3 linked regions of the Homo sapiens genome follow. The protein of the gene in region 2 interacts with the protein of the main gene of each other region in a pairwise test. Each region holds a gene or a part of one and is shown on either strand. Other genes may lie near its edges.

Region 1 (7,532 bases), on a different chromosome or scaffold from region 2:
TACAGGACATGAAGACAGGGAATGTTCACTCTCACTTCCCCTACAAACATTTTATACTTCACTTACCATGAGAATTAGATCTGTAGCCATTTGTGTACATTAAATGCTCTTTTCCAAAAGGATAATAAAACCTCTAATCTCCTCAAGAGGACCAAATAATTTCACCTTGGTTCCCAAGGTGCTGGGAAGACGTATCTCCCTAGGCATGTGTATTTCAAAAAGCATGAAAAACAGACCTTGGAGACATCCCCAGGTTACAAGTGTCTCACATTCTGAAAGGTTAGGATAAGACCCCTGGAACCTTTTCATCCCATGTCAGGGGAGCTAAGGTGTTTGTCTGTTTGGTTTTCCTTTTTCTTCTTCTTTTTTTTTTCTCTCTCTCTCCTTTTGGGACGGGAGAGGGACAGCTGCTCTGTCCCTGTCAACAAAGTGTAGCCCACATGTACATTCCATTAGTTTTCAGTGTCACCTAAGGGTCAAGGTTTAGGGGCCTGACACAATAGTGTCACTCAGGCTGTTGCCCCAGTTGTAAATATCAACAAGGAACTCTTTTCTCCTACCCAGGGGTTTTGTGTTTCTGCAGTATTCATATGTATAAAGAATGTTAACTGTGAAGTGAAATCATATCTCAAGCCCTTCACAGTTACTGACAAAACATTATGTCCCAACCTCACCAAAAAGCCACCAATCTAAGTGTCTCCAAGTAGCCACAGCTGTCTGAGGACAAAGGCTTCCAAGAGCCTGGCCAGGAAAGCCCTGGCTCTAGAGCCTGCTCCACACATGGAGGCAGAAAGGCTCGAGAATGGCCCCGTCCATGCACAGCCTCCTCCTCGGCAGCACCCAGTGTGTTTTTCCTAACCTTACGTGGACCAGAGGTGAGGGCAGAGATGACATATTAGCACTCTCTTGAGAATATTTTTCTGGTTAAAAGGGTAATTGGTAATTGTGCTTGCTGTTTTAAATTTGGAAAATACAAAAATGTTTCAAGAAGGAAAAAAAAAGCCAAACACCCACAATTTCACCATCAAAAAGATATGTTTTCTTCCAGGTTTTTAAAAATACCCCAATATACACATATGTTTTAAAAATAAAACTAGAAGCACAATTTCATATCCTTTTTTCCCCACCCAATCAGCATAGATCATAAATATTTTCCCATCACTAAACGCTGCTCGAAAACACGAGCTTTATAAGCTACCTATAGTCTGTCTGGATGTGCCGTAATTCGTTCAAATGTGTCTCTATTGTTGGATATTTAGCTTGTTTCCAAGTTTTTACATAACAAAAGCTAATTCAATAAACATCCGTGTACATACATCTTTGTTCCCATCTCTGGTTACTTCACGTAAGTAGGTTCCAAGAAGCAGAATTTCTGGAACAGAGAGCTTAACATTTTTAAGACTTTAAGTATATAGCACCAAGGTAAATTCCAGAAAGTTTATTTCAATGTAGAATCCTGACTACAGTCACTGTGGAGTACTCAGTGCCCCACTCAGTGACCCACACTACCCACTTATGGAATTCATAGTTCAGTTTTAACTTGTCCCATCTGGTTGTTTTTTGTTTTTTGTTTTTTTTTTGAGATGAAGTCTCACGCTTGTCACCCAAGCTGGTGCGATCTCGGCTCACTGCAACCTCCGCCGCCTGGGTTCAAGCGATTCTCCTGCCTCAGCCTCCCGAGTAGCTGGGACTACAGGTGCCCGCCACCATGCCCAGCTAATTTTTGTATTTTTAGTAGAGACGGGGTTTCACCATGTTGGCCAGGCTGATCTTGAACTCCTGACCTCAGGAAATCCGCCCGCCTCGGCCTCCCAAAGTGCTGGGATTACAGGCGTGAGCCACCGCGCACGGCCAATCCCATCTGTTCTTTAGGAAAACACATTATCAGCCCATTCTATTTCCCTGATTCCATATTTACCTCCCACAATCTCAATAGCACAATTACATTGATTTATCATTACAAATTACAAATATGAATGCATTAAATTATTACATGTGCCCTGAAAATACATACATCTATTATGTATTATTTCAAGAGTTTAAAAATAAAATAAAACAGTACCAAGGAAGATCAGTACGGGGGGAGAAGGCCTAAGAGAGCTATTACCGTATTTCCGTGGTTGCCTCCAAAGGCAATTTTAGATTGAGTTTGGGGCCTCACATAGTGAGTATCAGTTTCCCCATCCCCAAACAATGCATCAACATCAGCACACTTATACATTCTGAGAAATGCACCATTAAGCAATTTTGTCATTGTGTGAACATCACAGAGTGTACTTACACAAACCTACATGGTATAACCTCCTACACACCCAGGTTTATGGTATGGCCTATGGCTTCCAGGCTGCAAACATGTACTGCAGGTTACTGTACTGAGGACCGTAGGCCACTGTAGCACAATGGCAAGTATCTGTGTATCTAAACATAGCAAAAGGTAAAAGTATGATATTATCATCTTATGGGGCCACAGTCATGTGTATGGCCCATTGATGACCTAAACGTTGTGATGCAGCAACATCACTGTACCCTAAGGTGACTTCAGCCATGTCCAAGTGACAACTACTCACAACTTCATGTTTCCTGGTGGTATAATGTCAGCAGCTGCCTAGCAGTTTTCCCATCAGCCTTTCTCATCCCCAGGATAAAAGGATCTGATCCCACAGTCAGCAGTGGAGGGTCCTCCAGTCTTTCAACTGGTCCTTGAGTTATCACTAATTGCCTAACCAACTTCACCTCACCCCTCCGATCTCTAAAACTCTTTCAGTGACATTTATGCAAAGACAGAAAATCTCCCTGCCTGATTGTCTCTTCACTCTCTCCCATTCAAGAATCCAGGAGTCACTAGTCACCTATTTTCCTTCTCATCACCCCATCCCCCAACTCTCACTTTCCACCAGCCTCCCATTGCTATCCTTTCACCCGACACACCCATCATATCTAGGTGTTAAGACACTCTTATCACCACTGTAATTTTTCTCATCTTTTCCAATAGATCTAGGGTAAAAAGGACAAAAGAATTCTTTCAAAAATAACATGGTAGATATTACTTGAAATAAAGCAATTTGTATGCAGTCCCTCCTCATCTGAAAGGTCAATCTCATGAAATGGGAAAATTGGTAGGATTCTAAGCTTAGGGGGCCAGGACAGCGTATTCTGTCTACAGAGTACTTCTTTGGATCTTCCCAAAATCTGACATTCATAAGAACAATTAAAATGTACACTCAATAAGAACAAATTAAAGTGTATACTCATCTCTCCTTTGATGGCATTAGGTGTGCGAGTATCAAATGCCTTCAGCAGATAGCAACAGTGTTAAGTATGCCCAAATGAAATTATTTATGAAAATCACACAGCAAGTAGTTAATTCTCAAAAATCGTCATTTAATGAAAACAGGACAGGCTTTTATCACACAAAATCCTAAATTAAGGTATTTTGCTGAACTAAATTAGTCTTGCCTTTGGGATAAAAATACTTAGAATCCATCATCAGAAGGAACCTCACACACCTGCTTCTCATCTGCAGCCATTCTTTGTCAACTCCGCTCTTTCTTGCTTATCAGAAGGGAATACTAAACTGATAAAGGAGTTATAAACCAAAATAGAAACAAAACAAAACCAAACGCCTAATTCTCCATGGCCTTCCTGGACAAAGAGACAAATACATAAAATAAAATAAAGTCCTTCTTGCCTCTTCAAAATGGAAAACTGGGCTGGGCGCGGTGGCTCACACCTGTAATCCGAATACTTTGGGAGGCTGAGGCGGGCAGATCACCTGAGGTCAGGAGTTCGAGACCAGCCGGCCAACATGGCGAAACCTCATCTCTACTAAAAATACAAAAATTAGCCCGGCGTGGTGGCATATGCCTGTAATCCCAGCTACTCGGGAGGCTGAGGCAGAAGAATCACTTTAACCCAGGAGGCGGAGGTTGCAGTGAGCCGAGATCACACCACTGCCCTCCAGCCCAGGAGACAAGATCGAGACTCTTTCTCAAAAAAGAAAAAAAAAGGAAAATTCAATGTATCACAAACTTAACATGAGTCCCATTTCTGTATGGCAAGCAAGGGCAAGTGGGCAGAGCCAACAGAGTGACCACAGGCCCCTGTCCGAAGTGCTTTTTAAAATGTGGAAAGAGGTTTCATCTGAGCCAAGGAAAAGATCAACTATTTGGCCCTGGGAAGAGATCCTCGATTCAGTGGCTTTCCATTTCTACTCTGGCCACACACCTGAGGGAGGCTGGGGAGCAGGGATCCAATGGTGAATAAGAGGCTCGCTATCAAGGCAGGAAGGGGAAGGAAGGGAAAGGGGGCTACAGATAGTCTCAAATCTAAAAGGTCCCGTGTAATTTCTAAAAGTCCCCTCCCCAGGTGATTTTCACAACACACACAGGTTCTGTCTCCTGAGGATGACAGAATTATCCAGCCACATTTTACAGTGAAAACTTCCAAAGGAGGAAGTGATTGGAGAACTAAAAGGCCACTCTAGGCATCTGAGTTCATGCACCTTCCACCGCAGAGCCTTGTACACAGCTGGCTGTCAAGAAATATTTAATAAACAAATGAAATAATAACACAATGTGTGCATTTAAGAAAACCATTGCATGTGTTACTACATTTAACAAAATCAATTATTCATTTAAAATAATTGCATGGGGTCCCTGGATCCCCAAGCAGACCAAGTTATTGATGGAGGGTCCCGGCTAGTTTCAGTGCCTCAGAAAGCCTAACGGGATGGTGAGTTTCTCTCACACGGAGCCGGCCAGCCTGTCCAACACACCACGGGTCTCTACCTTTGGCTATAATGAGTTCAGTGAGATTTGATGATACCAGTTTTCTCAAGGCAATCAGGAGTTCTGACTGGAAGTCATATGTGTTTCTGAGGAATAAAAATGGGCACTAGGGCCGGGTGCAGTGGCTCACGCCTATAATCCCAGCACTTTGGGATGCTGAGGAGGGAGGATCATTTGAGGCCAAGGGTTTGAGACCAGTCTGGGCAACATAGCGAGACCCCGTCTCTACACAAAAATGTATGTCGGGCTTTGGGGTGGCACATGCCTGTTGTCCCAGCTACTCAGGAGACTGAGGCAGGAGGATCACTTGTGCCCAGGAGTTTGAGCCTGTAGTGAGCTATGATCGAGCCACCGCACTCCAGCCTGGTGGACAGAGTGAGACTTTGACTCTAATAAAAGAAAAAGGATACATGAAGTCTACTTAAATAAACACAATTTGTTTCAGAGACAGTTTGTCATAAGATGGAGCTTCTGAGGGGGAAAATTATTTTTAGGGGATCTTTGAAGGTCAATGCCAAGACTTCAGGCCTGCTGCTTGCTCTGAATCCAACGAGCCTCAGACGGAGTCCCAGGGACAAAGGGGACCTGTGAGCTGTGTTTCCTGCTTGTGTGTTTTCCTTGGTACTCTATAAAAAATACTGTCTTCATGTTCAAATCTGGACCCTATATGTTATTCATCATTCTTTGTTCTTTGTTGATAAATTAAAGTTTGATGGAACTTCCTCACCCACTTTTCCATCAGTCACTCCCGCCACCAGAGCCACTCCTCAATTCAGCACACTGTGCATGAAGCTGGCATCGTGCACCGACCACTGATTACACTCAGGCCAAACACAGGGGGCCGACGGGGCAGGCAGAGACCGAAGGTCCTGACCTCCTACCCCTGTGCAGGAAGGAACATCATGTCTCATACAGATGAAAAGAAGAACTAATTTTTACTAATAATAACTGACATTTCACCGCAGTTTCGTTTATTTGCATATATTACGTATTGTAATATATGTTATAAATATATGCTATCAGTTAATATTTACTTTCATGTATGTTGTCACATATACAGTGTTGGGCACACAGTAAGCATTCAATAAATGCACATGAGCCAAGATGGTAAAGCAGGCCGGCGCAGTGGCTCATGCCTGTAATCCCAGAACTTCAGAAGGCTGAGGTGGGCAGATCACCTGAGGTCAGGAGTTCGAGACAAGCCTGGCCAGCATGCTGAAACCCCGTCTCTACTAAAAATACAAAAATTAGCCAGGCATGGTAGCGCACGCCTGCGCACACCTGTAGTCCCAACTACTCGGGAAGCTGAAGCACAGGAATTGCTTGAACCTGGAAGCAGAGGTTGCGGTGAGCTGAAAGTGTGCCACTGTACACCAGTCTGGGCAACAGAGCAAGACTCTGCCTCAAAAAAAAAAAAAAAGAAAAGAAAAAAAAGGTGGTAAAAGCAAAATACTACAATCAGCCCAGTGCACACCTGCAATGACAGATAATGAAGAAGTTGACACGAGAGTGAAGAAGATTCAGACTAAAGCACAGAGAGGCTTGGGAAGATTTTCTTATCTGACATAAAGAGGGAAAATACATTGGTCCAATCACTGTTATTTCCATATCATTTGGTCTCCATGGATACCACCTAACTTTCCTTCTGACAGGAAAAAATTCACTGACAATATCGGATTCCACTGTGAAATTTTTTTGATACTTTATATAAAAGTTATTCCATGTTTAATCTTTTATCATTATTTATATATGCTCAGAAGTAAAATCCCTCCTTGCTGGAAATTCTATGAGAAAGATAGTGTCTAATCCAGTCATGATTATCTGGCCTTTTTACACTAAGAATAATCTGATATAATTTTGAAAGTTAATGCCTTACACATTTGTAGACTGCCATAATTTATGCAATGTTCTTTCATATACAGTATCTCAATTGTTCATGAAAGCAACACTTACGAGATATAGTTAAAAATTATTATTATCCTCCTTACAGCTAACCCCAAAAGGTAATAACTATATTTTTTGTTGTTAATGGTCAGCTCACTCACCAGAACACAACCTAGTGTAAAGATGCTGTCTTTCTCGCTGTCAGTTGAGTATACAGAGGCTAGCACTGTGTCTGGCTTATAATAGATGTTCTAAGGATATTTATTGAGTGTGTACATAAATTCTCTTGTCTGCGTTAAGCCCTTTTTGGTATAAGGCAGATAAGGGAACTATAACCCAGATACTCCATTTAGATAGAGTACAGTGGTTTTTCACTATCAAAAGGATATTATGTGAAAATGCTCTAAAAACAACAGTTTTGTACGAGATGATGTTAAGAATAAAAATATAACATCGTTGGTAACATGAGAAAATTGATGCACATCAAATGTGGAGCATCCAAAGTGTCTATTTTTCCAGTAAGTTTAAACATCTTTTGCTCTGGTGCACTATTTGCCTAATAAAGTGTTTCAGAAAGTGGGATAAAAGTGGGACCATTGTTCATAAGGCTGTCAGAACTTCATGGCACGCATGTGTTTGCCATAATTTGCTTCCAGTTTGACTACAGATCCTTACTTTTGATTATGCTGACATTTTTACAGGTAAGTAAATCTGAAATAACTGGAACTTTCTCTAACAAAAAAATGACAACTCACTGAGAATGAAATATGTAAATGTTTAATTTTAACAAGCAGTTACAAATCGTAACAGACAAGAACTCTTGGATCTAAGAGACCAAAATGTAATTTCTTACATAACAGA
Region 2 (7,532 bases):
ATACCAGTAAGGGGATAAATCAACATCGGGTGCCTCCTGATACAATGAATGCACTGACAAGAGCACTACATGATATCTGAGTATTCTCATCTAAAATGCCTAAGTCATGGAGAAACAACACATGAACACAAACGGAAGGAAATTCCACCAAATAACTGGCCTACAGTCTTCAAAACTGTTAAGGTCATAAAAGACAAGGAATAACAGAGGAACTATTGCAGACTGAAGACATGACAATTCTAGACACCTATGATCCTAGACCTAGATGAGGTTAATGGAGATGGTCACTTTAATTAATATTATATGAACTTCCTGATGCACAGGGTTGTTCTGTGGTTAAAAAGATGAGGATCCTTGAACTCAGGTAATACACATTTAAGTATCAAGAGGTAATGGGACACTGTGTGTGCAACACATTTGCAAATGGTTCAGAAATGTTAATATTGGGGTATCTGGGTAAAGGGTACTATTTCTGCAACCTTTATGTAAATTTGAAATTAAAAACAATTAAATTTTTAAAAATACTGTCTATGCCCGAAATAGAAGAGAAATAAATTCTGGGAGGATAAAACAATGAAGTTAATGGTGAATCAAGACAGGTTCAATCAAGACAGGCTCCGCCCATGCCAGAATTTCACCATGGTTCCATTACTTAAATTTAAGGACTATGTACTCCATGTACTCACCGTAACATCAGTTATCCTAACATTCAAATTCAAATTAAAAATATATCCAAAACCAAAAGAGGTCCTACTTGACCACCCACACTAACGGACAATCTACAACCACTTTTCAAAAAATCTGTATTTTAACATCGGAATGTGTTTGTATTTACACTTGAAGTATGGGCATGTCTACACTGGTAACTTTTTGTGAAAAAAAATTAGTCATTGCCCTAATTCTGGAACATAATACTAATTTTCAAATATAGTACAAATGGCAGATCCTGCAGGAAAACATTTAGTATGCAGATAAAGACTAAGCTGTGAAATTTAAATACTATGTCATACCATGATTTCTTTTTGATGGCTAATATGCTAAATTTATTATTTCTAAAACTAAAATCAGCAATTAAAATAATACGTAAGACGTGGCTGGCACTTTACCTTTGTTCTTACAAAGAATGATTTGTCTTCTGTTTCGACAAGGTAGAACAGGAAGGTACTTTTACAAGCCTCTTTCACAACACTTCTTAGTTTGACGTGCAAATTGGTGCACACGTCTATGATTATGTCTTCATAGGAGGCTGACCGTCCTGGGAAAGGCAGATACATCTCTTGAGCAGTGGCTTCTCCAGAAACATCATTTAGCTCTTTGTCTTGGAAAATGAATTGGTTGCTATTCTTCATCACCTTGTTGAATTCAGCATACTCATTGAGAATAAGTGAAATATCATTCCGAGATTCCTTCACAGTACTGTTGTATTTCAGTTTGTTGAGGTGGAATGAAACAGTGTGATTTCTTTGAGAATTTCTAAGATCTCTATTATGACTACATCTCTCTCTCCAAGAGGAAGAGCTGTCCAGACTGCTGGCTGTGTAGCCTCTCCTGGGCTGCCCCTGTGGTCTGGGATCTGACTCCACAACTGTTACCAGAAGGGGGCTTCTGCTCCTAGGTGCAGGATGCAGAAATGGGGCCTCAGAGATTTTTGTCGAAGGGAAAGCACCAATGGAGATCTGGGTTGGTGACTCCTTTGGAAAGACATTGGCAGAGGAGGCAGAATGCTGAGAATCCCCATTCTTTATGGTCTGTTTTAGTTTATGTGCAAAACGCAGATACTCCAGGTCTAAAGTGTTCTGGGTGAGGTCGTCTGCCACCTGCCAAGTGCTTGTCCAGGAGCTGGGCAGGCCACAGTTTGCACTGAAACTCGGGTGCCTCCTCAGGCCGTGTGAAGTTCTCATGGTATCTTTGAGTTCTTTTGTTATAGAGAAGTTGGCGTAAGTCCTGAGGATCCCGTGGAGATCTCGGATTTGGACGTAAGGCGGCACACACTTCTCTTCTTTCTTTACCGCAGCAGTCCAGTGCCCGGGAGGGAGGCTCGTCTCCATGCCTGGAACCCAGCTAGAGCAGCCCCAGTCCTCTTGGTTGTTGTTGTGGAAGTTCAACGACGACTCATAGCCATCTGTGGGAACATCTTTTTTCCTGGTGTAACTACCTCTTAAAGTATAAGAATCCTCCAAATCCAGTCTGGGATTTCTACAATCACCAAGCAGGTCTAGATCAGAATCTCCAGAGAGTTCATAGTGCATGTCGGAATTCACACCGACCTCTCCATCTCTGCCTAGGGTTTCAGAACCAGCCTCAGCCCTGAGCCCCTCCCCACTGTTCTCAATTTCTACGTGCTCTGTGGCTATTCCACAAACAGAAGTATCAAAGGATTCTGAAACAAAGGAGGCCAAAGGCTCTTTACTGAGGTTTTCCTTGGTGTCTGCTGTATTTTGGTAGGGACCAGCACAAAGGGAGGAAACCCCGACATTCAATAGCTCCTTTGTTTCACATGTTGACACATCTTGCAGCGTGTGGATGGCTTTGCGTTCACCTTTTAGAGAAGATGTGGTGTTGGACTGAGGGCCAGCAGTGCCTGGACCTGTGGTTTCTTTATGTAACTCAGCTTCAGGCTCACCATTCTTAAGCAAACTGGCCATTCTGCCTGCTGGTATTTCCTGTGCTTGAAACACTGGCTCTGCATTTATTGGTCTTACATAATGGGTTAATGTAGCATTGTCTGAGGAAGAACAAAGCGTGGGGACCACTGAGCACATGCATCCCTGTGTAGAATAAGCTCCATCAACCGAGGCAGCTGTCAAGGACTTCACCTGCAGATAAATGCCTTCATCTGTTTTCAAATCACCGGGAAAGAGATGGTTCTGACTGCTTTTAGGGCTAGTCTGCTGTTTTACTGACACATTCACTATACCACTTGGTGCAGTTGTGGAAACCAATGTGTCAGACAAAGACTTATTTTCAATAACATTTCTAGGACCAAATGGAGGTTCACTGGACTCCAAGACAAGATGTTTTAAGTCCAAATTTCTATTCTCTATACTAACTGGCTGCAATGGATTTCCTGATTTTACCAGTTTTTCAGGAGAAGGACTGAAGTCACCTGTGCATTTGGCAGCTGAGGCAGGCTGGTTTAACTCCCTACCATAGCACTGCACCTTTCCTGAGAAAGATAAACCCTCATCATGCTCACTTGAGACAATTTCCTCAGTTACTTTACCAGGAAGGGTTGGTCTACCTGTTCTTCCTGGATGATCAGTTAATATTAGAGGCATTTCGGCAGAGACCTGCATTTGTTGTACCTGGGTAAAGTTATCTTGCCCCACTGGATGGGTAGGACCAACAAAAACATTTTCTTTTTCTGTTATGCCTAAGTCTTCTGACTCACATTGGGAGATTTGGTTGCTCTTCTCACACTGTGTACCATGAAGTTTTAAAATGCATGGAGTCACAGCCTGATATGGTCGTGTCTCTTTAACTGGTACTGGAGGTTCAGGACTAGACGCTGGTGATACTTCTTCAATTACAGAATCAAAGGGAAAATCAGAGGTCACATTAATTTCCTCTGCAATCTCAAGGGTGCAATTTTCTTTAGAAAGTATTAAAGTAACTGGTTGTAAATTATCCCCCTTTCTCTCCTTATTTTCTACTGGTTCTTCTGACACTGAGGGATATACTGACACATTGTCAGCAGAACTCACTTCTCTGCTTTCTGTGAGAGCCACCTCTTCCGGTTCACCTATTTCCTCAGCTACATCCTGAAGTTCTAAATTTGAGAATGGGGCCTCCTCAAATTGCTCTATTTCACCAGCTGGCATTTCTTCTCTGGGACTTGTAGGTGGTGATATTGTTAGAGCTAAGTCAATGTCAGAATCTTCCTCTGATAACTCTAGGCTGACCTCTCTACTCACAGACAGGCTTGTTTGTTTGATAAATACTGAATCAAACGCTTCCAAATTCATATTTTCAGTGTTTGGACCATTCTTGTGATTCTTCCTTAGTTCTAAAGAGTCACCTGATGTGTGGCATCCTGACGAAATGCAGTTAAGTGAACACTGCCTTCCCAAGGTGGTAGAGGCTGATGATGAGTCCACTTCAACCTGTGTCAGTTCTAGAAGCCCTTCTGAAGATAGGCCGAGGAGACTCTGAGTCTGTGAAAGGAAATCCTGAGTGCATCTCACTTCTTCACTGGGTGATAGATGACTAGAACTTTTAGCTAATGATAGTGCCTCCATGACCATTGTTTTATCAGATGGTAGAGAGACTGGAAGGGGCGTCTCCTTCTGTAATGAACACACTGCTTTATCAAGTGTCTCTCCACCTACTGACGAGGCACAAAGGTACTTAGTGCCCTTCTGTCCTGCAACTACTAGAGAGGGAATGTCCCTCAGGCCTTGTGTTCGTGCATTTTCCGAGGTGGATACAGGATGTCTAAGGCTTGCAGCAGGTGATACTTGCTTAATCAACTCCTTCTTAAAGGTTGTACGTTCATCAGCAGTATTTACACCTTCTGTCTGTATTGGTACATGTGCATTTTTTTCAAAGGTGAGAGTAATTGGTTCCGGGTTAATCACTGCACACCCCATATTATCATCCTTTCTTTCCAAGGAAGGGTGACATTCATTGTTTATGGGGCTGCCATGTTGGATAAGGTCCTGTAAAGTACCTGTTTTTGTTTGCACTGCTGCATCAAGAATATCCACTTTGTTTTCAAGGGTGCCGTACACAGAGCTCTGACATATCACTGGCTGACTGCCAGGCCCATCGTAAGTCCTGGTGAATGTGGCTTGAGTAACAGTGCCACTGTAAGAAGCCACTCTTGTGCTATCCAGTGGCTGAACAATTTCTTCTTCACTAGGAACAGAAGGTCCATTAGTTTGTGTACTTCCAATACCCGAAAGCACAAGATTAGAAGTCTCCAATGATTCTTGTTTAGCTTCTTCCCCAGTTACCTGAAACGGCCAAAGTAAAAAAAAAAAAAAATCAGTCATATAAAATGTTTTTTATACGATTATATGTACATGTGAAGAACAGAAAAGATAAAAATTAATTTTAGTTTGTGAATGTTCTTCTGAATTTTCTAGCTAAAAGAATATCACAGGGTACAAATCAAGCAAGTCCCTCTTTTAAAGGCAGACTTAAAATACCCCCCAGTGGGATTTGTTTTCTTTAAAACCACACACAGAAGAGAGCTCCAAGCTTTTTGGAAGAAAAATAACTAGACCACTGACAATTTAAAAGACTTTAAATGCAGCCTGTTTGCTACTTAGCACCGCTTAATCCAGAAGTGTAGCACTAGAGAAAAAGCATTCAATTTTGTTTTTAATAAATGAGATTAATTTTTTTTTTTTCAAGACAGCGTCTTGCTTTATCGAACAGGCTGCAGTGCAGTGGAGTGATCTTGGCTCACTGCAACCTCTGCCTCCCGGGTTTAAGTGACTCTCTGCCTCAGCCTCCCGAGTAGCTGGGATTACAGGTACATGCCACCATGCCCGGCTAATTTTTGTATTTTTAGTAGAGATGAGGTTTAGCCACGTTGGCCAGGCTGGTCTCAAACTCCTGACCTCAAGTGATCCACCCACCTCGGCCTCCCAAAGTGCTGGGATTACAGGTGTGAGCCACTGTGCCCAGCCTAAAAGATAATTTTTAAAAAGCAAATAACATTTTTAACATCCGTTTTCAATTAGACCATAAGTACACCATCATCTGAAACTTTCCCATGAGGCAACAGAGTAAATTAATTACTACCCCCTGTACTCAGAATACATTGATTCTAGTCAACAAAGGCCCCTCATCCCTTAGCTATCTTCTTTGCATGAAACTGGAGATTCTTTCTCATTTGAATACCTATTGTACATGGCAATTGAAAACTTTATCAATGCAGTTTGCAATCATAAACTGAACTAAAGGCACTGATTTAAACAGTAGCAAGCAGGATTTAGGTTAAACATTAGCAGAGCTATCATCTCAGGACAGTTCTCATAACCTCATAAACAGGGTGGTATTTGTTTTTTGTTTTATTTAAAGCCTCAAGCATGGCCTTGTCGAGCATATAATAAAATGAACTGATTATACAACTGATCACACCCCTCTGCAATGCTGGGAACACCATGCTCACAAACTGCGTGCCATGTCTTGAAGCATACATGTTGGAAATCAGGAACTGTGTTCCAAATCTCTTGTTAAAAACATTTCTGTCTTAGGTAGGGCACGGCTTCTCACGCCTGTAATCTCAGAACTTTGGGAGGCTGTGGTGGGCGGATCACTATAGGCCAGAAGTTCGAGACCAGCCTGGCCAACATGGCGAAACCTAGTCTCTACTAAAAATACAAAAATTACCCAGGAGTGGTGGCATGCACCTGTAATCCCAGCTACTCGGGAGGCTGAGGCAGAGTCACTTGAACCCGGGAGGCGGAGGCTGCAGTCTCAAAAAAACCAAACCAAACAAACTCATTTCTGGCTGGAGCAGTGGCTCACGAGACTCTGTCTCAAACAAAACAAAACAAACAAACCAACCAACCATTTCTGGCTGGGGGCAGTGGCTCACGCCTGTAATCCCCAGCACTTTGGGAGGCTGAGGCAGGTGGATTGCCTAAGGTTAGGAGTTATAGACCAGCTTGGCCAACATGGTGAAACCCTGTCTCTACTAAAAATACAAAAATCAGCCAGGTGTGGTGGCAGGCGCCTATAATCCCAGCTACTAGGGAGGCTGAGGCAGGAGAATCAGTTGAACCAGGGAGGTGAAGCTTGCAGTGAGCCGAGATCGTGCCATTGTACTCCAGCCTGGGAGACAAGAGTGAGACTTCTCAAAACAAAACAAAACAAAACAAAACAAAAAAACAGAGTCAACAGTGTGGGGCTGAGACAACAGAGTTTTAAGAGAACAAAGTATTAGAAAAGTCTTGAGAGTCAGTGTCCTTCTGAGAACTTTAATGGCCCTCCCAATCATGTGGCTGGTAACGTTTAGCCTCAGTCCTAAATCTCACCATGACTGTAGTCTTAGTGAAATGCAAATAGTGACAATCTTGATATATTTCTATTTCGATATATTTTTACTACAGGTAAAGTGTAATGCTTCTAAAATAAAGTCTGACAATTCAGAAAGAGTGCTCAACTCAACACATGACTAGCAGCAACATGCTTTTGGTTTCTAGTGCCTATCATGCTAGAATCCTCTTCTTCACATTCCAGTGTGCCAACTGGTGGAGGGAGTGCGATAGCACACGTGTGCCTTTCAAGTACAGGCACAGCATTCAACAAGATGACAAAAAAACAAAAGCCTACGTAAGTACATACTAAGGAGATTGTTAGGAATCACTGATTTGAACAGTCAGGCTTGCCAAAATCATTGCTAAAATTAGTACTGATGATAGTTAATTACATATTACCACGACAAATGGTATTTTATAAGAAACTAGCATGTATATATGTATTAATTTAAATCTCCCTGACTAGACTATATTTTCTTATTCTAAGGTGGTGATTCTTAACTGGATTTTATGTAATTCTTTGAGAATAGGATGGAACTG
Region 3 (7,407 bases), on a different chromosome or scaffold from region 2:
ACATTCAAATATACCTGTTGAGAACAGAGTTCAGAAAATGGGTTCAGAACAGTTTCTATATCCACAGTTTCTATGTCTGCAGGTTTTCCCTACCTCTCCCCTCACTGCCCCCAAGATACAGGGAAAAATGGCCACCCACCCACAGCTGGAGTTCTGTGGCAAGGCTCTGCTACATTGAATAAAACAAAAGTAAAATAAAATGTGTGTGTGCACATAGGCTTACCAGGTGTGAATCGTCCCCCAAAGCTAAAGAGATGAAGGACATGCTTTTCCCAAAGCAAACAACCTGAACACACAAAGGCTGTGATTTCTTACCCAGTAACATCATTTCCCCGACACTGCTGTCATCTTCCTTCTCTGACGTGAGTTGTTGAGTAGGATCCAAGCTCACACATTCTTCCTGGCAGTGAAATACATTCAAATCCTCAAAGACCACCAGCTCCTGAAAGAGCAAGAGGCCCCTTTCATCTTAGTAACTGAGGTTCACTGACAGCCCTACTGGTAAGAAAAGCTGACACACAAAGATCAAGGGAAGGGATAGCAAGAGGGACCTATAAATCCCACAGAGGTGCAGCAAAGACAGGACAGCCAGGCTGAGAAGGGCTCAAGGAAAAAGCAGAAGAAAAACACCCAAGAAGGCCAACTCCTAAGAATGTGTTTTTACACACAGGTTGGCCAAGCACGGAAGGTGATGGATTCAGGCAGTAAATGGGAAAACCAAACCCACCTCAGGGTTAGCTTTCAAATACAGAGACACTGTCTCTTGTTCCTTTTGGACTCCTTTGGGCAGAAGCTTCACCAAGGGACGAGGATGCACTGGGGAAAGAGGAAGGTTTAGTTAGTGAAAAACTCAGTGACTCTAACACAGAGACTCCCCATACCGCGAGGCCAGGCTGTCCTCATTCCTTTGACAGGTAACTCATGGCCTTTTCTGCTCCTGTGAGCCCTTATAGAGTTCAAGCCATAAACTCTAGGGTCTTGAACCTATGGCATCTCCCTGTTATGAAAAGAATGACTTCTCTAAGCACCTTTCAGAATTTCCCATAGAGTATTACTAAAGGAGAGCTTAGGGCAACGTAAAGTGTGAAGATGCCCAGAAAAAGCACAAAATTTCTAAAATTCCACATCAACCTAACTCAATAATTCATCTGATTTATCCTTAAAAGATATTTCCCTCAGAATGTTTGGGTAAAACTGACACTACAGAAAGATGCACACTGTTTATTCTGTGGCCTTACTCACACCCAGCACTTGAGAAGAACTTCCTCTTTCCAACACTAGAATTGACTCCTTTTCCAATATACACCATCCTAACTTGAATTTATAACTAACACAGAAACCTATCTTAGACTCCAGTACCTCCTCCTCCTCTTCTAGTGAAACAAGCATGTGCTTCTCACCTCTGTTCTGAAGGCTTGAGCTCACATCTTTCATAATAACCAAGGTCTCCTTGACTTTCTGACTGGGCTGGACCAGGCTTGGCTTGGGCAAGAAGGTGAGGAAGTGCTCCAGCACTAGCTGGTGGATGGTCTTGGGCCCGTTAGTGGCATCTCGAAGTAGGTCTTGGCCCAGCTTGGAGTCTGGCGGAACTCTCAGTATAAAGGACTGCTTTGGCTTTGGGGGCATAGGAACCACTTTTGCAGCCATCATGCCTTGCAACCACACACCACACTCGTTTCGCGGGGCCTCCAGAGCCACCTCTTACTAGAGGAAATCTGCCAGAGAGCCAAGCTGTAGACAGAGAAACCAGGGATTACCCAAAAGACCAGGCACGGCATTACTGCACTCCAATATGTGGCATGGCTGGTGAGGCTACATGAGATCTAAAGAAAACGACAGCTGGGATAGGGAAATCATAACTGAAACGCAGTATTTGAACAAGATATGCTTAGGAAGATGTGAAAGGAAGATCCTGAGAATGAAAAACAGAGACTGTGCAAACCTCAAGTCCAAAGGGAAGGGAGTAAGGGTGGAGCGGAGAAGGCCAAGGTCCAGCCTCCTGAGAAATACAAAGTGTGGCCAGGTACCGGTGGCTCACACCTGTAATCCCAGCACTTTGGAAGGCCCTGGCGGGTGGATCGCTTGAGTCCAGGAGTTCAAGACCAGCCTGGGCAACACAGCAAGACACCGACTCCATAAAAAAAAAAAAAATTAGCTGGGCGTGGCGACACAAGCCTGTGGTCCCAGCTACTGGGGAGCTGGGAGGATTGCTTGTGCCCAGGAGGTCGAGGCTGCAGTGAACTGTGATCGCGCCACTGCACTGCAGTCTGAGCGACAAAGCAAGACCCTGACTCTAAAAAAAGAAAGGAAAAGAGAAAGGAAAGAAGGAGGAAGGGAATCAGGGAAGAGAAAGAAAATAAAAGGAAAAAGAAAGAAAAGACAGAAAGAAAGACGGTGTGTAAAACCCACCAGGAATAGGTTAAATCAGGCTTGGAGAAAGAGCAATGGGCTAGAAGACAGGAAATCTGGGGTCAATACCGAGGACATCTGCCTAAAAGCAGGTTGGTCACTGAATCTGGCCATACTGTACCCCTCGAACCGAAGCTCCCTCCGGTGCCCTTTGGGCGGGGAGGCGGTTGGTGACTCTCCCGGGGAGCAGATGCAAGGCCGAGGAGGTGTCCACACACCGCCTGCCGACTCCTCTCCGCCGTCAAAGCTCTGCTGAGAGCGGCAGGCGACATCCCACTAAGGACCGCCGGGCCAGGCTCACTCTGGGGCCTCTTCCGCTGGTCAAGGAACACCTTTACCGTAAAGCTCAGCGTGCGCCCCTGCCTGAGGCGCTCACCAGGCTCCCTACCCGGCCTTGCTCCCTCAGCAACGGACACGCTCCGCTCCCCAGAGGCGGCCTCAGCCTGGTTCCCGCCCTCACGGAGCCCCTCACCTCTCGGGGCCTCTGCAGCCCCTGAGCGTTTGCTGGGGACGGCTCAGAGACTCAGGCTCCGGGAGAGATAGAAAAACTAGGCGCGAGCGGTCGAGCCCTCCCCTCGCCCTTCCGAGTGCCCTCACAGGTCGCCGGCGACTATTCGTTCGCGCCGCCGCCAGTTGAGGAGAACGGCAGGGACTCGGTGCCTTCTGGGAAGTCGGGCGCTCTGCGGCTGTGACGTCACAACCGGTGCCTTGTTTCCGGTGCAGAAGCCTGGTCTCCCCGTTCGGAGCCGGCAGTCTGCGCTTGAGACGTTAAGACTTGAGACAGGCCAGAGGAGCTCTCAGGGCCGGAGGGAGGCCAGGACGGCTGTAGCCTCTCTGTGGTTCTGCCTGGAAGACGGAAGGCAGGTGGTTGGCTCTAGTCATCCACGACGGGCTGGCACCTCTCCAGCTGCGGCCAGTCTAACCCCAGGGCCTGCTGGGAAATGTAGTTCGAATGCAAACAACCAATGGACGACCGTCAGGCGCGGCGGTTGGGGCGGGGCAGGCCCCCCCACCGCCCCACCCCCCGCCCACCCAGCGCCCGCGCTCCCCCCACCCCCCACCCCGCCACCCCCCTACCCCGCCACTCCCCCACCGCCCTACTCTCCCCACCCCCCACCCCCCTACTCTCCCCACCCCCCACCCCCCACCCCGCCACCCCCCACGGCGCCACCCCCCAACCCCCACCCCCCTACTCTCCCCACCCCCCTACTCTCCCCACCCCCCTACTCTCCCCACCCCCTACTCTCCCCACCCCCCTACTCTCCCCACCCCCCCACCCCCTACTCTCCCCACCCCCCTACTCTCCCCACCCCCCTACTCTCCCCACCCCCCCACCCCCTACCCTCCCCACCCCCCCACCCCCCTACCCTCCCCACCCCCCTACCCTCCCCACCCCCCTACCCTCCCCACCCCCCTACCCCGAGGCTTAAAGGAAGCAAGCTATCTCTCCGACCGGAAAATCAAGACGCCTCCGCGGTTTCCGCCTTTTACTGCGGTTCTCCAGTAAAAAGACTGCGGAGGCGGACAGGGTGTGGCCGCCATGGGACTCCGCCCCCGCTCTGGTGACTCCCATAGGTTAGAGATGGGGCACCGACATTGCCCACTCCAGCTTGCTAACTTCTACACTGCTGTCCGCACCGGCCGTCTTGTTTTTAAAGACATCTTAATTGCCCTTCTCCTACTGTCTCGGTTTCCTTTCTCAATTTCAGCTTCCTACGGAGGCCGAACAGAGTTTTGTGTTTGTGCGTTGTATCCACACTCGGTTCGTTCCCCAGTGACGCACTGATCAGGGTTCGGACAACTTGTGGGCAGGGATGGCCTTATTTCTCGATGTAATACCAGCCTCCAGAAAGTTGACAAAAGTAAAAATATAAATGAATGCCTCTTCTTAAAGTTAATTATACCTGACTAATGGCTGACGATGGCTTAAAATATGTTACAAAGAAACGAGTATGAAAACTGTGTGGCACCAAGACATTCTAGAAAAATAAGGAATATCTGCCTTTTCAGATCAAAATTTACTAAAAAGCCTCCGTTAATCAAAGCATTATGGTTTGAATTATGAGGCAAAACAGATAACTGAGATGTCTTGAAGTAAAATATAAACCTGTGTGATTGTATTTTTTAAGAACTTTTTCTTGACTCTGTTAACAAACAAGAAATAGACTGGAAGATAATTGTAAAGATTAGCTACACAAAAGATTATACATTCCTAAGACAAAATGAACCCCTGCCAACTGACAAAAAGCAAAGGCAATGAGGAGCTCTTCCCGAGAGGAGGAAAACTAATTGGTCATTAACATTTAAAAAGATGCTTAACCACACTACTAGTCAAGATTATCACTTTTAAAGGGAACCACATTTTTCACCTATCAAACAATGAAGGTGGAGAAATAGGCACTCCTTTCGCTGGTAGTGTGGTGTGTGAAGTCATCTTGTAATATATATTAAAATTAAAAGTACAAGTATGTACCCTTTGACCTTCACAATCTCATCTGTGAATCTGATGTCTACAAATTTCTTGTAGAATTCTTTGTAGTGACAAAAACTAGAAATGACATGCATGTTCATACGTAAGGAAAGGAGTAAATTGGTGCATTCATACTCTGGAAATTACCCAGCTATGAAAAAGAATGGATTGGAACTATATGTACACCTGGAGGGATGGCCATAAAATATTACATGAAAAAGTTTCAGAGCTACATATATTATGCATAATTATATTTTTGGAACAAACAAAACACCTTGTGTATGTTTGTGTTGAGGGATACACAATAGATTATTAAAATGGTTACTCATGGGATGGCCAGGCGCAGTGGCTCATGCCTGTAATCCCAGCACTTTGGGAAGCCAGAGGTGGGCTGATCACTGGAGGTTAGGAGTTCAAGACCAGCCTGGCCAACATGGGGAAACCCCATCTGTACTAAAAATACAAAAATTAGCCGGGCGTGGTGGCGGGTGCCTGTAATCTCATCTACTTGGGAGGAGGCTGAAGCACAAGAATTGCTTGAACCCAGGAGGTGGAGGTGGACGTTACAGTGAGCCAAGATCGCACCACTGCACTCCAGCCTGAGTGACAGGCACACCAGCCTGGGCGACAGAGTAGTAAGACTCTGTCTCTAAATAAATACGTAAAATAAAAATAAAATGGTTACTCAGAGGGAGGGAATGGAAATGGAGAAAAGGGAGAGATTACACTTTTTTTTTATTGTGTCACTTCATTTAATGAGCACGTCAATTTGGTAACTAAAAATAATAAAACCTTAAAAAAAAATAGAACAATAGGCCGGGCATGGTGGCTCATCCCAGCACTTTTGGAGGCTGAGGTGGGCAGATCATCTGAGGTCAGGAGTTCGAGAGCAGCCTAACATAGTGAAACCCGTCTCTACTAAAAAATACAAAATTAGCCGGGCGTGGTGATGCATGCCTATAATCCCAGCTACTCAGGAGGCTGAGACAGGAGAATCATTTGAACCTGGGAGGCAGAGGTTGCAGTGAGCTGAGATCATGCCACTGCACTCCAGCCTGGGTGACAGAGCAAGACTCCATCTTGTGGGGGCGGAAAAAAAAGAAAAAAGAACGATAAAGATTTTTTAAAACAATTTGATGGAAAAAAAGAACGATAAAGATTTTTTAAAACAATTTGATGGAAAAAAAAGAACGAAAAAGATTTTTTAAAACAATTTGATGGAATCCTGTTTTTAGAATCTAATCCGTAAAATAAATGACATAAATGGATTTGAAATGATACCATAAATTAAGGGTGTAAACACAATATGTATCTCTATAAATGCCTTTTAACATGAAAAGATGGCTATTGTCACATACAATTAAAGAAATGAAATTTAAAATAATAATTACAAAAATAATATTCAGTATTCTAAAAGCAAATTAATACAATTATTTAAGAGGGCAATATGACACTTCCTATTTTAAGAAGTAAACTGTTCATAAACTTTGTAATGGTCAATTCTCAACTCATTTTAAAGAAAAACTCACGCCTGTAATCCCAGCACTTTGGGAGGCCGAGGTGGGCGGATCATGAGGTCAGAAGATCAAGACTATCCTGGCCAACATGGTGAAACCCCGCCTCTACTAAAAATACAAAAATTAGCTGGGTGTAGAGGTACACGCCTGTAATCCCAGCTACTTGGGAGGCTGAGGCAGGAGAATAGCTTGAACCAGGGAGTTGGAGGTTGCAGTGAGCCAAGATTCTGCCACTGCACTCCAGCTCGGGTGACAGAAGGAGACTCCATCTCCAAAAAAAAAAAAAAAAAGGTTACATCATGATATGTTTATACAGTGGAAGCCAACAGAACCATTGAAAAGAGATACTTTAAGTGAAAAGGCAAGTTATAAAGCAGTATGTATAATAAGTCGTTTTAAAAATAAAATGTTAGGCTTTTTTTTTTTGAGATGGAGTCTTGCTCTGTTGCCCAGGCTGGAGTGCAGTGGCGTGGTCTCGGCTCACTGCAACCTCCATCTCCCAGGTTCAAGCAATTCTTCTGCCTCAGCCTCCTGAGTAGCAGGGACTACCGGCGCCCGCCACCACACCCAGCTAATTTTTGTATTTTTACTAGAGACGGGGGTTTCACCATGTTGGCCAGGATGGTCTCGATCTCTTGACCTCGTGATCTGCCCGCCTCGGCCTCCCAAAGTGTTGGGATTACAGGTGTGAGCCACCGCCCCCAGCCTAGGCTTTTTTTTTTTTTTTTTTAACTGGAGGAATATACAATAACAAGAGTTAACAGTTGCTTTCTAGAAATGTTGGCCGGGGGGGAGGGAAAGAGAGTTAATATTGGTTGTCTCTAAGGAGTAGGATTAGAAGGAATTTGTCACTTTTTATGTTTTATAAATCCATACATTTTCAAATAACAAGTGTTCCTTTTGTAGTTGAAAAAAACAACTATTTGAAAGGTGAGTTAATTTAGTATCTGATCATCTAGGAGTAAAACTAAGTGAAGAAAGAATTTCCTATTTAAAAGATCTTGAATGCAA

Evidence for each region. The genes of interacting proteins can lie anywhere in the genome.
Region 1: the proteins of TASOR2 (region 2) and IRF2 interact in binary tests that used the Homo sapiens proteins (3 or more experiments, as listed by UniProt).
Region 3: the proteins of TASOR2 (region 2) and ZNF200 interact in binary tests that used the Homo sapiens proteins (3 or more experiments, as listed by UniProt).

The regions. Positions count from the first base shown.
Region 1 is NC_000004.12:184,464,498-184,472,029, forward strand, and holds part of IRF2 (interferon regulatory factor 2), read right to left. Parts: intron 1-7,532. UniProt on the Homo sapiens protein: Specifically binds to the upstream regulatory region of type I IFN and IFN-inducible MHC class I genes (the interferon consensus sequence (ICS)) and represses those genes. Also acts as an activator for several genes including H4 and IL7.
Region 2 is NC_000010.11:5,743,602-5,751,133, reverse strand, and holds part of TASOR2 (protein TASOR 2), read right to left. Parts: intron 4,956-7,532; coding exon 1,107-4,955; intron 1-1,106.
Region 3 is NC_000016.10:3,232,106-3,239,512, forward strand, and holds the start of ZNF200 (zinc finger protein 200), read right to left. Parts: upstream 3,054-7,407; 5' UTR 2,882-3,053; exon of another isoform or gene 2,410-2,881; intron 1,732-2,409; 5' UTR 1,651-1,731; coding exon 1,401-1,650; intron 817-1,400; coding exon 728-816; intron 443-727; coding exon 316-442; intron 1-315. UniProt on the Homo sapiens protein: Localizes protein arginine N-methyltransferase PRMT3 to the nucleus.